Linked DNA regions of Homo sapiens: region 2 is linked to region 1. The links come from fine-mapping of genetic effects on gene expression. A gene starts in region 1. The other region holds a variant in brackets. All regions are shown on one strand. Distances are from middle to middle. Region 1 holds the start of ZNF691-DT (ZNF691 divergent transcript). Region 2 holds the start of LOC124904163 (a long non-coding RNA gene).

Region 1 (4,397 bases):
AACATGAGAAACTATTCCTTGATACTTAGACACTGTTTCCTGACCATCCTTTAAAAAATTAAAATCACTCCCACACTCCCAGTCCTCCTGCCCCATAGCACATCTTACCTTCTGACATTCTCTTTATGTCTATTATTTATTGTCTGCTTCCCTAAAACATAAGTTCCATGAGAGCTGGTGTCTTTGTTGTTTTTTTGTTTTTTTTTTAATTTACCAATGTAACCAAAACTCCTAGAGTAGTGGCAGCCATATACAGTAGATCCTTCATAAGTATTTGTTGAATGAGTTGAATAAAACACCAGCTCTGTCTTCATGGGACACAAGTAACCATGAACTGTCTCACCCACTTTTCCTCAGCAATCTCCTGATTCCTGCCTACTTTCTCCTTTATGCAGTCACAGAATCTTGTGCTTGGCTTATAGTGGTTTGCAACTACTAGTAGAACATGTCTGTTTCTATTAGTAGTTTATAAGCAACTTGAGGAAAGGGACTGGGTCATATTAGTAATCTCCTTCTGCAGCATAAAGCTGGGTGCTCAAATGTCTTTTGAATGTATAAGTGACAGGATGTGATCTTAATTCACGCCACCATCCCATCCCCCACCCCCTGCCCTGCTCCCATCTGACCTACAGCTACAGTATCTCTACGCAATGAGCTATTCAGCCTCCACTCACTTCCGAAACTGCTATTCTGAGAACCTATAATTTACCAAGTTCCAGCTCTACCCGGGGCTGGATGCTAGGTCAATGTAAGAGCAAAAGGATTTAGGATTATGATTACCACTCAGTTTGTGATACAGTGTACTGAAACAGACCGTGAACTCCAGAAATTGTCATACAATGCAGAAGGTTAAGTTCAGGGGACAGGGGCAGGAACTGTGCCTTAGTCACCTTTGTACCCACTCCTCAGTGTCTAACACAGCACCTGGCACATTATTAACATTTTTTTAAAGCTCGAATCAAGTGCTAAGCTGTGGACTAAGGACCATATATGAATCATCTAATTTCACTTCACATCATCCTTATTTTAGAGATGAGAAAGCTGAGGCTCAGAGAAATTAAGTATCTTGCCCAAGGGCACACAGCAAGTAAGTGGCAGAACTGGGGCCTATGCCCATCACTTCAAAGTCAGTGCTTTTAACCATTATACTATTACTGAAGGAAAAAAGGAGAGAAGACGGGAAGGAAGGAAATAAAAACAGTACCACTGAAGTTCACATGATACAGATGTATCTCCCTGATGAAATCAGGGCTGAGAAGTTTCAAGGAGGAGTAGGTATTTGACCTAAGGTTTGCAGGATGGGTAAGACTGGGACTTGCAGAGATAAAGAGGCAACTACCTACTGAGAAGACAGTGCAGCTGAAGTACAGAGGCACTTTCATATCACACTGCAGAGATCTGGGGGGAAAAGGGGTCTATTGGGCTTTGTCTTCCTGGTGGCTCAGCTGCACAGAGAGAAGCAACGGTGGAAGGGGCTGAGAAGTGGAGGAGGGGCCAGGTCTAAGAAGTTAAGAGCCAAGAAGATGGGGCTAGTGATCACAGATGATGAAGGTGAAGCGCCTAGGTTAAAGGCAAGGGGCCAAGCCATAGTGCGGTATGGAGGTCCGAAGTTACAGGTCTTTGGGGCCAAGTCAAGGGCTGCAGGGAGGAAGAGGAGAGAGGAGCTATGAAAGACCAAGAGCAAGGTGCTAACAGGGTAATTGTACAGGGAAGCTAGATAACGGGTCAGAGATACAGGAGGACCAAGGAAGTCAGAGGGTCGCAGGAGACGGTCAGGGAAGAGGAAGCAAAGGCTGCCAGAAGTGTCACAGGCCAGGGCCCAAGAGCTGAGTTGTGTGTTGCGGGGCGGGGAGAAGCCAATGGCGGAGGTCCAAGGGTACAAGAGCTGGTTTCAGAGATTGCCGGCGGGCTTGGGGCCAGAGAGGTGGGAGAGGAGGAGGGGCTGATCCTAAACGTATGGTCAGCGGCAGGAAGGCTGTATACTCAAACCCAACAGAAGGGCCGGGGAATGGGTTGGGGACAGCCACCTGGCTGCGTGGGCCGGGGGCCAGGGCGAGGGTCGCGGCGGAGGGACCACAAGGCCCCTTGGCTTCCCACTCGGTCCAGGGAGCAAAGCAGCAGCATCCAGATCCTCGGTGAGAGGGAAGTGGCCGTGTACAGAGTTTCCCGCGAAGTCGTGTCCGCCTCCCCCCGCGACCTCGGGCCCAACCCGGACCCACCTCGCTCCCGCCGCTCGATCAGGGACAGCGCCGCCTCTGTAGGCGAGGGAAGGAGCTGGAGCCGGAGCCGGAACCCAGGAAGGATCCGCCCTACTACTCCAGGATTGGTTTCTTGGGATAATTCTTTATTTCCATTGGCTACCATGACTGCCACAACGCAAGCGACCTGGCAGGACCACCAATAAGCTTTGACCGCTGGCGTGGCATGCTGGGAGTTGTAGTCCTAAGGAAGCGCGTAGACTCAGAGAAAACTTGCGAAGTTTAGGATGGAGCTGAAGAGACTGGGTTCCGTCCTACGGTGGGATTTCTTTCCGTGCTCGCGCGTTCAGCCCCAAGTCTCAGGGCCACTCGTCTGGGAAGTTGTAGAATCTGTATAGCCAACCTACACAACCTCCAAGGGGGCAAGTACTCAAATTTCCTTCTTTACTTTGAGTTGGTAATCCTTGACCGTCCTGTAGACGTCCAACGAAGCCTAGAGTCTGGCACCTCACTCAAGGTTTATAACTTAAAATCAAAGGAGGGTAGAGCTGGAAGGGAGTTTAAAGATAAAATAACCCAATCTCCTTATCGGAGAAGCTAAAAGTACCCTGTTCAAGGATCAACCTCCAGGTCTTCCAGCCCCCCTGAGCAGGGATTTTCCCGGGTTCCGCGTGCATCCCTAATTAAGCCTGACACGTGTTCGTCAATCCAGACACAACAAGATCACCAAAGTATCCAGGACTAGGTCTTTTTTTTCAGGTTTTATTTTTTAAAATAATAAAAGGCTAATGAAATACGTAAACTACAGGCTTCTCGTATCTGCACAATGTTTCAGTGCAAAGAACAAGGAGCATTGCCTTCAGAGCTAGATAAACCAAGTATAAAACTCTGGCTCTACCACCTAGCCATTTGGAGTACCAACTCCCTCCCCCATAAAATCCCTGGCAGAATTACTGTGAGGATATTATATATACATACATATATTCTCATGCATGTGTATGTGTATACATATATACATATATATGTATGTATGTTTTATATAGTTGTAAGGTTATAATACATACATATATTGAGGTTATTTCTTGATGACATTAATATTCAAATCAGTAGACTGATATGTATGTACATATATACATGTATAATACACATACATGTGTATATACATATACTAATGTATACATGTGTATATACATGCATACATGTGTGAATATGTATTATACATACATATGTATATATGTGTATACATATACACGTGCATACATGCTAAATACATATACATATATATACACCTATGTAGTACAGATATGTATATACACATACATGTATACATGTGTATATGTGTATGTATGCATATGTGTGTGTATATTATATGTATATTCATGTATGTATGTGTATATGTATGCATGTATTCTGCCTCCACAAGCTGACAATGTGAGTTAGTTTTAAGATTGGGATATTCAGGAATGCATGTTTGGAACTGAATATGGTTGAGTGAAATATGTGTGCCTTATGAACACTATTTGTTTATAAATTGATAAAATAAAATACTAGAGAGCAGACTCAGGAATAAAACTATGGCTTTAGTATGAACGGTGGCTAAACCTTGCCTTGGGGGACTCAAAGCTCTTTGGAAACCAATCTCTTACCTTCCCCACAACTCCTCATTCACAATGAAAATAACAGCATACCAAAACACAAATACCAAACTTTTATTTTAAAACTGTACAAAAGCAAACAAAAAATTCCACTGAGTCACTGTGATAGTTAATCTTATGTATCCACTTAACTGGGTCACAAGATGCCCAGCTATTTGGTCAAACATTATTCTGAGTGTTCCTGTGAGGGTGTTTCTCAATGACATTAACATTCAAATCAGTAGACTGAGTAATGCAGACTGTCCTCCCAAATGTGGGCGGGCCTTGCTGAATCAGTTGAAGGCCTGAATAGAACAAAAGAGCTAACTCTGCCCTAAGAGAATTCTTCCTGCCTAATAGCCTTTGGACAGGACCATCAGCTTTTTCCTTGCCTTCGGACTTGAATTAAACATCATCTCTTCCTTGGCGTCAAGCCTGCTGCCATCAGACTGGAACTAAACCATCAGCTCTCATGGGACTCCATCTTGCTGACTTATCCTGCAGATCTTGGGATTTAACCGCCTCCATAATCACGTGAGCCAATTCCTTATAATAACCACCGCCC
Region 2 (4,397 bases), 9.1 kb after region 1:
CACATCTCACACCTACAGGTAATGACAACATAAATTATGTAGATGTTGTAGGAAATATTACTTCATTTAAAACTATCACTGAGTATTGGACTTTGTGATCATGTATATTTTCTCAATGTAATAATTAATGCATAGATATGTCACATGTCTACAGATTTATTTTTATTTTTATTTTGAGATGGAGTTTCGCTCTTTTTGCCCAGGCTGGAGTACAATAGTGCAATCTCGGCTCACTGCAACCTCCGCCTCCCAGGTTCAAGCGATTCTCCTGCCCCAGCCTCCCAAGTAACTGGGATTACAGGCGTGCACCACCACACCCAGCTAATTTTGTATTTTTAATAGAGACGGGGTTTCACCATGTTGTCAGGCTGGTCACAAACTCCTGTCCTCAAGTGATCCACCTGCCTTGGCCTCCCAAAGTGCTGGGATTATAGGCATGAGCCACTGCACCTGGCCAGATTTTTTTTTAATGTTAAAAAGAGGTCCTCACACATGAAATGATGGAGAAGTACTGCTCCAGCATATTCAGTTTAATAAGGATCCTGTCCTCCTGGACCCCATCTAAGGAAATGTCATGCCTGGGTGATAAAAGGGACTTCCAGATGGCTTCACCTATGGGAGATGCATCTATCTCTTCCTGGTGAAACGTTTTTCATTTAAAGACTAAATAATAGTTGTGCAGGAAAGAGGAGCAGAGAATACTTGAGAAAAGAGGCCTTTGAGAGCCAAGAAAGCCCCAGTCCCCATGGCTTGAATTACCAGTACCCCCTCCCTTCTGCCCCAGGAAGTGAAACTGAGATGCTCATCCCAAAGCAAAAGTGTCAGCAGAAGGAGCTTGTGCCATGGATGAGGAGCAAAACTTACTGACAGCTTTATGGAGTTTTCCTAAAAACCAGAAAGAGAGAGAAGAGTGAGTGATCAGATCCTGCCTCTTTTTCCTCAGAGCTGTGGCAGCCTCATCACTCCAACCCACAAGATTAAAATGATGGTGACGCTTCTATGTCCCTAGTCCAGCTCCGTGTCCCAGAGTTCAGACCCAGAAATCTGATGGTGCTGGTGACACTGTCCCAGTGACCCAGCCTGCCCGGGACTTTGGTTCCTCCTTCCCCTTCCCCTCCTTTTCATCTGTCTGGTTTCATTTCTGCTGTCGGCATGAGTGTTTCTATATGTTTGTAACTGCGGTACATGAGTGTATGCACTGCTGTCCTTTTATAGCCCACCGTTTATGGTATCTAAGGTGTAAAACTAGCTAAAGGCCTAGCATGAACTTGTTAATATGGCTGTATTATTCTCTACAGTAACTCCCCTGAGGTTATAAATTTCACAAATTGGAGGTCCCAGAAGATTTGGGGACATGTGTATGAGACATGTGTTTCTGGGGAGTACTTGCAGCTTCTCTGGAGGGCCATGTGGCCCACATTTCCCCCTACCCAGCATTGGCCCTGCTAGACAATTGAAGTTACACATCCTGAGTCCACCACCAGTCCCTGTGCTAAGGGCCGGGCATGTGTTAGGCATTAGGCATTGGAGCAATGCAGCCGAATACGACACGGCTCCTAAGGAGCTTATGGTTTATTGTTACCATCTCCACTACTAACAGCTTCCATTTACTGTCTGCTGTGCTTATACTGAAGTAGGCACTGAATCCTCTCAATAATGTGAGATGCCTAGAATTATTATTGCCATTTTATAGGGGGGTGGTCTGAGGCTCAAAGGGACACAAAATTTGCCCAAGGTCTTCCAGCTAGTAAGTGACCAAGGAGGCAGGATTCAATCTAAGTCTGTCTGACTCCTGAGTTAGAGGCCCTCTCCCTTACCCCACACTGTTCCCTCTTCACTTGAGCAGAACAGCCAGTGTCTGCCAGATACACGCCAC[G/A]CTTGCACCAGCTTGGAGGAAATGTAAGGAGGGAAGAGAGGAGACGCTGACATCATTGAATCTGGAGTCATCTGAGCCAGTGACTTGTCTTCCCAGATAGACTTCAACAAGGTGTCCAACTCAGTGGCCCACAGTAAATGTCAAATTAATGAAGACAAAATGGCAATAAGGAAAAGGAGTTCCAGGCACTGTGACAGATTTTTTTTTAAGGTTGCCTGTTTTAACACTGAAAACAATCAGGTAAGGGGAAGTTATCTGCATTTTGCTGATGAGGAAACCAAAACCTAAGTGGCAGACCAATGATCTGAGGTGTCACTGACCCCAGAGCCTGCGACCCTTCCTTTGTATCATACCACCTCTCTCTATGCAAAGGTTGTGTGGATTCTTGAAATTCCCATATATCCCATATGACCACATTAATATACTTTTCAATAATATGTAGACTTCTTTTTAAAATGGTTGGCGGAAAGGCTAATGAAGGGAGTTTATGGTAATCTAGGCCTGTGAATTTTGACCTGGGCACCTCCTTACCCACTGCCACAAGCTCCACAGCCCCTTAACATTGCACACTAAATTCCAGTAATATCAATGGAGGATATATGTGTGCATGTGTGTACAGTATTATAAAAATAGACTTATAATAATGACTGTCAACATTTACATAGAAAAATAAAGAATGTGTTTTTTGTTCCCTACCCCTTACTCTTTTATATCATTACCTTTTTCTTTAGCATGGTCTGAAAGAAGATTGTCTAGAGGAAGAAAGGAAAAGATAATGAGATTTTTTGCCACTGCCTTGAGGATCCCTGATTCCTATTGATTTTACCTGCCCTTGGACCTGTCCACCTCTATCTTCACCTCCACCTCCCTGATCCGGTCTCTAATCAACTCTCACCTGGACAACAGAAATGGCAGCCCAAATTGTCTCCCACATCCTGTCTTAATCCCTCTGGTCTCTACTAAACTCTGCAGCCTGAGAGAATTGTTTAGTTTTTTTTTTTTTTTTAAATCTGCCACCCTGGCTGGATTGCAGTGGCATGATCTTGACTCACTGCAGATTTTTTTTAAAAATCTGCCACCCTGGCTGGATTGCAGTGGCACGATCTTGACTCACTGCAACCTCTGTCTCCGGGGTTCAAGCAATTCTCCTGTCTGTCTCCTGAGTAGCTGGGATTACAGGCACGCACCACCATGCTCCACTAATTTTTGTATTTTTAGTAGAGACAGGGTTTCGCCATGTTAATCAGGCTGGGCTTGAACTCCCGACCTCAGGTGATCCACCCTCTTCAGCCTCCCAAAGTGCTAGGATTACAGGCGTGAGCCACCATGCCCGGCCAAGTTTTTCAAAGCACAATTACATCTGATATCCCCATTCCTTGCTTTACCACTGCTCTTACGAGAATGACTAAAATCCTGAATGTGACCCACCAGGCCTCAGGAGGCTCAGCTCCGCCTCACTCCCCAGCCTCACCCCTGCCACTTTTCCCCTCACTCCTGCACCTCCTCAACTCCCCAGTGAGTGCTGCTTTCCCCGACCATGCTTCTCTCTGAAGCTGTTCTTTCTGCGGTGGCTGGTTTTCCATTCCCTCTTCACTCATGACTTCTAGTCCTTCAGGACAAACTTCATACCCTCAACCCTCAAGCTTGGTTGGTTCATTCTGGTCATAGCCTTCACAGAACCAGGAGCTTTCTTGTGTAGCTTTTGTACACATTTATTTGTGTTAACTATTTAATTCATCTCATTTCCCTGACTACACTGAAAGTTCCAGGAGGGCAAAAACTGTGTCTGCTTTTACTCACTATTGCATCCCCAGAATCTAGTATTGTCCAGGGCATTTTGTAGATAATTATCAAGTATTTGTTGAACAAATAAAAGCTTCCCCCATGTTCAAGCTACTCGACTCCCATAGAATAAGATCAAGCAATGAGCTCACAGGCAAAAATCATTAAACATACAGGAAGGCAAAGCTATTACAAGTAAGAGGCAGTAAAAACTGGAAGCAACGGATTTAGACATTGCCACCATCACCAAGGATAGCAGATAATGGAATTTTCAGGAACAGAATCCAGGTTAGTGGGTATGGGGGGCACAGAAATTAACAACAAAAGAAACATCTCCCCTGCCCCCCAGCCAAGAACACTTACCCACCTCCGTCACATGTTCATAGAGAAGCTTTTCTAAAAGGGAGAGAGAAATGCCAGCTCAGCTTAGGAAGGGCTTTTTCTAACAGGCACAAGTGTCCCAAGATGCCCCCAGCTGCCTGAGTAGGACTGACTCCTTGTCACTACAGGTAAGCGGGCATTTGAAAGGATTAGAGAGTCTTCAAACCATCAGATAAGGGCAGGAGTGTTGGATTACATGACTGTGACTTTCAAAGTCCCTTGCAGCCCTGAGATCCTGTGAAATGTGACCATTTTTTATGAGAGTCTTATCCAATGGATATAATTGGATTTCTTTATTAAAGGGCTGTAATTCATTTCTTAGTTAATTAGAAGGCTGGCATAGTCGGTTATTTTCTTA

The links. PIP is the estimated chance that this variant, and not a neighbour inherited with it, causes the effect.
Region 2: its variant is fine-mapped to the expression of ZNF691-DT in lymphoblastoid cells (GTEx, PIP above 0.99).

What each region holds. Positions count from the first base shown.
Region 1 is chr1:42,844,480-42,848,876 of GRCh38, reverse strand. ZNF691-DT (ZNF691 divergent transcript) reads left to right here and starts at 2,463. Exons shown (of 5, transcript NR_186083.1): 1 at 2,463-2,620; 2 at 4,193-4,366. It overlaps ERMAP (erythroblast membrane associated protein (Scianna blood group)), which reads right to left. Exons shown (of 12, transcript NM_001017922.2): 12 at 3,886-4,397. It overlaps ZNF691 (zinc finger protein 691), which reads right to left and starts at 2,264. Exons shown (of 4, transcript NM_001242739.2): 1 at 2,220-2,264. RefSeq lists enhancers at 2,228-2,297, 2,458-2,727.
Region 2 is chr1:42,835,389-42,839,785 of GRCh38, reverse strand. It overlaps ERMAP (erythroblast membrane associated protein (Scianna blood group)), which reads right to left. Exons shown (of 12, transcript NM_001017922.2): 6 at 4,022-4,054; 7 at 2,596-2,628; 8 at 865-885. It overlaps LOC124904163 (a long non-coding RNA gene), which reads left to right and starts at 2,127. Exons shown (of 2, transcript XR_007066035.1): 1 at 2,127-3,946. The variant G/A (reference allele first, on the strand shown) is at 1,877.